2 linked regions of the Homo sapiens genome follow. The protein of the gene in region 1 interacts with the protein of each later gene in a biochemical or structural test. Each region holds a gene or a part of one and is shown on either strand. Other genes may lie near its edges.

Evidence for each region.
Region 2: the proteins of RPS15A (region 1) and SLX9 are reported together in a solved structure, tested with the Homo sapiens proteins (one study listed by BioGRID).

What each region holds. Positions count from the first base shown.
Region 1 is NC_000016.10:18,780,485-18,784,064, forward strand, and holds the end of RPS15A (small ribosomal subunit protein uS8), read right to left. Parts: intron 2,619-3,580; coding exon 2,525-2,618; 3' UTR 811-2,524; downstream 1-810.
Region 2 is NC_000021.9:44,956,728-44,960,537, reverse strand, and holds part of SLX9 (ribosome biogenesis protein SLX9 homolog), read right to left. Parts: intron 1,841-3,810; exon of another isoform or gene 1,605-1,840; intron 439-1,604; coding exon 370-438; intron 1-369. UniProt on the Homo sapiens protein: May be involved in ribosome biogenesis.

The sequences.
Region 1 (3,580 bases):
TGCTTTCTCCCTGGCCAGGAGCTCAAAGTGAACTTCCTCGCCTGGGGTGAAGTCATCCTCTCAGACGTTGGTCCAGACCTAGCTTCAAACTCTGCCTTGCCCAGAGACCTGTGTGCTCTTTCACCTGGCACTCCTGACCCTGAGGTGAGACAATAGCCTCTAAGTGAGGACACGTGGCAGGCACGAGTATAGATGTGTTGCTGAATGTAGGGGTCCTTGGCAGTGGTTCCCTGGTCTTTTGAATGACACATTTCTTTCAGCCTCTGGTCAGAGGCTCCACGGGGTCTCTCCATGAAAATGCAGGGGTGTTAAGTTTTGCATGTCTTTTTGGACAGTGCATCATATCCCTGACACCTGCAGCTCCGAGGCTGAGCAGCGGATAGGTGCTGGGTCCCTTTTACTATGAGCCAAAACCACCTAGGTAGGAATGGATGATCCAGATGCTATCACCCTCTCCCCACTCCGGGGTCTCTGCCTAGCAACAGCAGCAGTATGCTGGGAGGATGCTGGGATCACCCCACAGAAATACTTGTCTCTGAGCCAAGACATCCTGCCAGCACGAACCTAAATTGTCTTCAGACCCTCAAACCCTGGGGTCTAGTCCCACACCAAGCAGCCCTGGGTCATGTTATAAAGCCATTTACAGGATCTGAGGAACAAGGGGTAAGGTCATCCGCTTCCTTGCCAACATAAAAGAACACATGTTAAATCCATCAGCCACACCACTCCTTCTTCCCCTGTCACGTTTCTCCCACTCCTGACCACTTCAAAGGACATAGGATCCCCACAAAATGGTGACAACAAATGGAGCCATTTTCATATCCTATTTTATTTTTGAAGTCAGTGTCCAGAAAGAAACCGACGATTCACTCAATCAACATGTAAGCGACTGAGGCATCCCTACACACCAGGTTTGCAGGCTAGGGACCAGAGACACGATGGTTAAACAAGCCAGAGCCCTGTGATCCTAGGGCTTACAATGCTGGCATAAGAAAATCCTTCTGGACTCACTGTCCCCATGCTTGTGACTGTCATGTGCCAAGTGCGCTTTACACAATCTCATTTTTCCCTCAACTTGGGGATAGGTTTTGTATCATTCCCATTACAGATACGGATGCTGAGGTTACTGAGTGGAAGAGGAAACCTGAATTCTGCTGCTGGACCCCAAAACTCATGTTAATTACCCACAGCCTCCCAAACATCAGAGGCCCCAAACATGCCTCCCAACTCACTTCTCACAAATGGGGGCCGTTATCTGCCCCATCTCTAGGGCCGTTCTGTAACATTCTCAGCGACTTCCCATATCTTACAGAGGCAGGCCCTCCTTTCAGGAAGCTGATCCATGCCCCTTAATAAGGTAGCTTCTCTCCCCACTTGGCACACCACCTAGCTAGCCAAGGGCAAAGCAGAGACTAGGGGACAGGCCCCAGCACCGGGTCAGCACCCACTACCTCCTCAGTGATCAACAGTGCCCATTGCACTTCAATGGGCACCTGCAAGTGGCACCAGATTCTCTTGGAACAATTCTTAAGGCAGGGCGTGGTGGTCACACCTGTAATCCCAGCACTTTGGGAGACCAAGGCAGGCAGATCACTTGAGATCAGGAGTTCGAGACCAGCCTGGCCAACATGGTGAAACCCCACCTCTACTAAAAATACAAAAATCAGCCAGACATGGTGGCACACACCTGTAATCCCAGCTACTCAGGAGGCTGAGGCACGAGAACTACTTGAATCTGGGAAGCGGAGGTGCAGTGAGCCAAGATCATGCCACTGCACTCCAGCCTGTGTGACAGAGCGACTTTGTCTTAAAAAAAAAAAAAAAAAAAAAAAAATTCCTAGCAAGTATTTATTACAGCAGTCAGTGACAAAAGCCAGATCTAAAATCCTATCTACAGAATAATCCTAGCCAGGCAAAACAAATTCATCAAAAACTAATAGAAAATACTGAAATATAGGCCAGGTGTAATGGCTCGTGGCTGTAATCCCAGCACTTCGGGAGGCCGAGGTAGGCTGATCACTTGAGGCCCAGAACTCAAGACCAGCCTGGGCAACATGGCGAAACCCTGTCTCTACTAAAATATAAAAATTAGCCGGATGTGGCGACACACACTTGTAATCCCAGTTACTCAGGCGGCTGAGACAGGACAATCACTTGAACCCGGGAGGTGGAGGTTGCAGTGGGCCAAGATCGCGCCACTGCACTCCAGCCTGAGCAATAGAGTCAGACTCTGTCTCCAAAAAAGAAAAAAAAAAAAAAAAACTGAAATACAACTAAAATATTTAGTGTCAAATACCTGGTTTTGGCAGACAGCAGGGGTGACTGTTTCTTAGGCATACTGGTTTCATAAGAACTTTTTCCCTTGGCTGTATTAGTCACTTCAGGGAATCGCATTCACCGATAAACGAAGCAACTGCATGCTGCCGCAGAAGCTGTGGCTACACTGCTGTAAAGGCTCAAAACGACCAAGTGGAAGCACCAGAGTCCATGAGGCATTTTATTTGTAAATATATGTATTACATCCCTAGAAAAAGAATCCCAGGATTTTCCCTCCTGTGTGTTTTCGTCTTGCTTCTTCATGGTCCATGATGCCAGCTGAGGTTGTCAGTACAATGAAACTATGGAGTGGAAAAAGAAAGTGCTGGTAAGTTTAATAGTTCAACATAGTGCCTTCTAGTGCAGAAAAACATCAACACTCATCAGTGGTTAAGGGCGCTTTCCTGTGGGGCACATAGGAACTGACAGTGCCTACATGAGCTGGTGCCTCATGTAGCGTATGAGCCATGACTCCTGCAACCCAAAGAGCCAAATCCAGAGAGCCCAGCCACACAATCACACAGCCCTGACTTCTGCCTACACCATGAAACAAACTGCACTGAAAACAAAGGCTGGGAACTCCTTTAAATTTAAATGTCACTTTCTGCTCTCAGGTAAGGAGACTTGAAAGTATTCGTATAAACTTGAGTTTGAATTGTGTTTCTGCCATGTACTGTATAATAGCTAAACTATTATATGGAGACGTTCATTTGTACAATGAGTGGCTGCTTCATGAGTTACTGTGGGGATCACTGTAACAAGCATATAGTATGCAAATGTGCGGCATTAAAATCAGTATCATAATTACAAAGAGAAATGATTTTGGTGAGAATACCGTACCTGTAATACAGCAACCATGAAGTGAGAATACTTTCAACCAAGGCACCAGACGCATAATTTGGAGGGTATAAATTCTTAACCACAAAGATACACATTTACTGTGTCAGCTCATAAAGTGCTTTACCAAAATTAAATCAGGTGATAAACAGAGGAACTATTACCACTTTTACGGATGAAGAAATCAAGGCTGTGACTTGCCCAAGATCTCATGGCTTTAAAGCAGAAAAACAAGGGTTTGAACTCAGATAGGCTTTTAAGGACAAAGACTCCCAAACTAAGTTTTCCCAAAGGCCTAGGCTTAGAACTGATTCTGGCCCTCATCTGGGATCACAGGGAACTATCTGCAGTGAGCCAAAAGGGCAGACATGAAAGTGGACACGACCCCCCTTTTCTGCCAGTCTAAGCTCTCATGTGCCTCTCAGAA
Region 2 (3,810 bases), on another chromosome or scaffold:
ATTTCACGGTGGGGAACAAAAATAGGTAATTTTTACAAACAAGGAGCCGAGAGCAGCAGCTTCCCAAGGCCGTCCTCCAAAGGGAGGCAGCCCAGCTCTGCAGGTGCCCACACGGACGGGGTGGCAGTGCCATCCACAACAGGCCAGACCAGCTTGGCCATGCTGCCAAGTCTTCATGGCCAACCTCTCTGTGCCTCCACTGTCCTTCGGCCCCCACAGCAGCCTCTGAAGTGTCTTGGGTGATCCCCTTGGGCACTCCTCGGGGAGTGTGGCTGATGTAGAAGGCCAGATGTGAGGCTGTAGGAATAGGAGGGCCCACGGGATGGGACTTGGGCCGGCAGCTGCCTCAAGACGCAGGCATGGACTTACTCTGCAACCATTGCTCACGCCTCAGCTTCATTTTCTCCTTCTTGGGCAAAACGGTCTTGGCCTCTGCACCTGAGGAAAGAGAACACGGGAGTGAGCAAAACGTGTCCAGGTGGCACTCCCATGACCTGAGAATGGGCTGGGGCGGGTCCTGACTGCAGAGCTGCCACAGTCACTGCAACTGGTCTGGCCTGTGCCAGCCTCTCAGACTCCCGGCTCTGGACAGCACCAGGGGCACCTGCAGCATGCCTCGGCCCGGCCTCAGGAGGCTCTCTCAGCAGCGTCCCCCCGCAGTGATGGCCTGGCCACTCACCCCAGCCTGCCCCGGAAAGCAGGTGTCCCAACAAGGAGGCCTCCTCCCCACTCATGCCCCGAATGACTGTCAGGGCAGTCATTGCAGTGAAGCCATGCAGGAATGCCCGACGGCTCATGAAGGGGGCCACGAACAGGACAGAGGCCCTTAGGGGGACATCCCCAAGATCCTGTGTGGTCACGTCAGGCCCAGCGACGTACGTGCTCCCTGCCCCCTGCCAGGCCCGACAATGTGCTCGGTGACCAGAGGCTTCATCCCTGGACCCCACAAAGCGGCCCTCTCAGGGAGCCTCCAAAAGTGAACTCCACAGGTGCCCCTGTGCTTGGTCCACGCGGAGCCCAGCCACCTGCCCGGTGGGCGGGGAAAGGAGGCTCATTTGCTGGGGGGACAGGGGCAGGGGTGGGATGAGCCTGCAGGGCCGTGCAGGTGGGGACAGGTGGAGAGGGCACTGGGTGCTGCGTCTCTGACTCCAGTTTGCTCTGAAACAGAGTGGACTCAAGGGCACCCCCATTTCCTCGGCCTTAACTGATTTCCCGAGACGGTTCAGCCTCGGCTGCATTCTCCCCAGAACACATCTCCCAGTATCTCTTTTAATTCATGCAGACCTTCCTGGCTTGTCCAACAAATCCACCATGTCTAATGAAAAACAAAGCAGAAGCAAGCCCTGCCTGGAGAAAGGCAGTCGCTGCGCTCTGCATTTCAGACTTCACTTCAGGAGCCGGTGTGAAACCTCCAAGGCCCAGGGCTCCCGCAGGATTTAATCCCCTCCCACAGCTTCCTGGTGTGCCTGGGTTGACCTACTTTCCTCCATAGCATCCCAACCTCTCCCTCCCGACCACAAAGGGGAGGGGCTGATTTTGCAGCTTTTCTGTAGTTTTGAAATTGTTTCAAAAGAAAAATGAATCTAAGACCAGTGGAAACTGACCCGAACAGTGACCTGTGTTGTGTTGGAATGAAGAAAACGAGGCCTGGGCGCAGGCCAGGTCAGGAACACAGCACAGTGATCCTTCCCGGCTCTGGCCCCAGGGAGCTCCCCAGCCCCATTGCCATGGCACCAGGACAACAGGAACCAAACACGCTGCTCCTGCAGGAGGAGAGGGCTTGGAATGCTGCAGCTGGAGCAGAGGCCGCCTGGAACTGCTGGCGGCGGCCCCACGACCCCCAGCTCCCGCCGCTTTCCGGGCCCAAGGCGCCCTTGCTGAAGTGCTCCGGCACAGGTTCACGCCTGCTCCCCCTTCTAGCCTCTGGATGGGCTGACGGGTGTTCACTGAGATCCAGTCGGTGCCGCGGGCTACGGAGGGGGCTCGCCCTGTGGGTCCTGATTCCCTCTCCCCCGCAGGCCCAAGGCCACATGGACAGGGCAGGTGGGCGCACCCCACCCTGTGGTGGGGACAGTGTGAAGTCCGCTCGAGCTGCTCCGGTTTCTAAACTTACCTACGACAAGGCCAGCACACCACAGCTCTCGCCGGTGCTGCGGAAGCACAGGAGCGTCCCGTGGGTGCAGCAGAAATGCCAGCTTGGAGGAGGGCCGGGCTGGGAGTGCAGATGCTGGGCCTCAAGCAAGGGTGTCGGGAGCTGCTACTGTCCTGGGCCTCGCCCCAAACCCAGATCCCAGCAGCACCAGCACTACAGCCCCAGTGGCTATGGGGAGGGGAAGGTCACCAAACACGTCTGATTAGTGACAAAGTGACGGCAGCAGGGGCCACACCTGAGGCAGGTCATCCGCCGAGCCCGAGCTCCTCACACAGGGCCTGAAGTCCGAGTGGGCACCAGGAATACCAAGCCAGAGCTGACAGTAAAAACGACTTCATACAATCGCCGGCCAGCCGAGCTGAGGCTACAGAAGGGTGCACACTCAGAAGGGCAGAGGCGGCTGCGACCTCGGCTTCCCGCTCTAGGCAGACAGGCTTCTTCCTCTGTGCCCTGTCTGCTTCACATCCTAGGCCACCTGCTGCACGGGCGGCTCACACACTGCCACTCCTTCTGGCCCGCTCAGTCCACAGCTCAAAGGTGTCAGGAGACGGGCAAGTCCCCATTAAACTGAACCTCACAGAACCCCAGCCAGTGGCTGAGGCAAGGCTAGACGAGGTGCTCATACCCTCATTCCCCACAAAACCGAGACAGGACCCCCCCAAGACAGAGCCCAGGCCTCCCTGTGGGGGAACATGCTGCAGGTGCCATCCACTCCCCCTCACACTCGGTGGAACCCTCTGGGGCCACCTGTTGCTACTGGCAGTGAACAAGCCCAAAGGGTGAAAGACAAGGCCGCAGGGCATGAGGTGGCTCCTGCGATCTGGGTCCTGGGACCCGGTGGTATCCAGGGTGCTCCTGGCTGCCACAGCGCCTGTATCTGAGCTGGACTGCAAGGCACAGGGCAGATGGATGGTGGAGATGAAGAGGAGGAGGATGAGGAGAAGCCGTGCCCTTGCCTGAGTCTTCAGGAGCCCAGGATGCAGCTGCCACGGAGCGATCTGCATAGAGGCACCGGGCTCACGAGCAGCGTGTGGGGACTGACCGTGTGGGACAGCCCCTCTGGCCCAGTGGGAGGCACTCTGAGGAGGACTCAAGGGCCGTTCAAGGAACAGCCCCTCTAACCCTTGACTCTGGAAGACCCCGCCTCAGCCCTGCCCTTGGGGAGTGACTAGAAACCTGCCCTGAGCTGACTCATCACAGAGCTCTGGGGGTGGCTCTGGTCCCTGGAACGCCGGCCGGCCCGGCAAAAACCTGCAGCATGAGCTGAATGGCCCCGCACAGAGAGAGGGATGGGTGCACGCAGGTACAGGCTGCCTAAAAACCCTGACAAGAAAAGGGAAGGTGAGACGCTGCCGCGCAGGAGCCAGGGCCCGTGCTCTGGAGCTGCAATTCCAGGTACACTGGGCAAGGCAACCGCCTCGCCAGAACCACAGCCTTCCCAGCTGCCACGGTGCTGCCTGGGCTCTTGCGCTCTAACAAAGGGGCCCCGGGAACAGACGCGGTAAACCAGCCTCAGTGGAGGAAGCCACACATGGCAGCTACACAGCACGCCTGTGCCGCAGGCAACTCACCTGGTCCCCAGCCCTCACCAGGTCAGCAGACACAGAACCAGGCTCACCAGAGTTGGGCCGTGGGGTGACACGGTTCACGGGGCACGT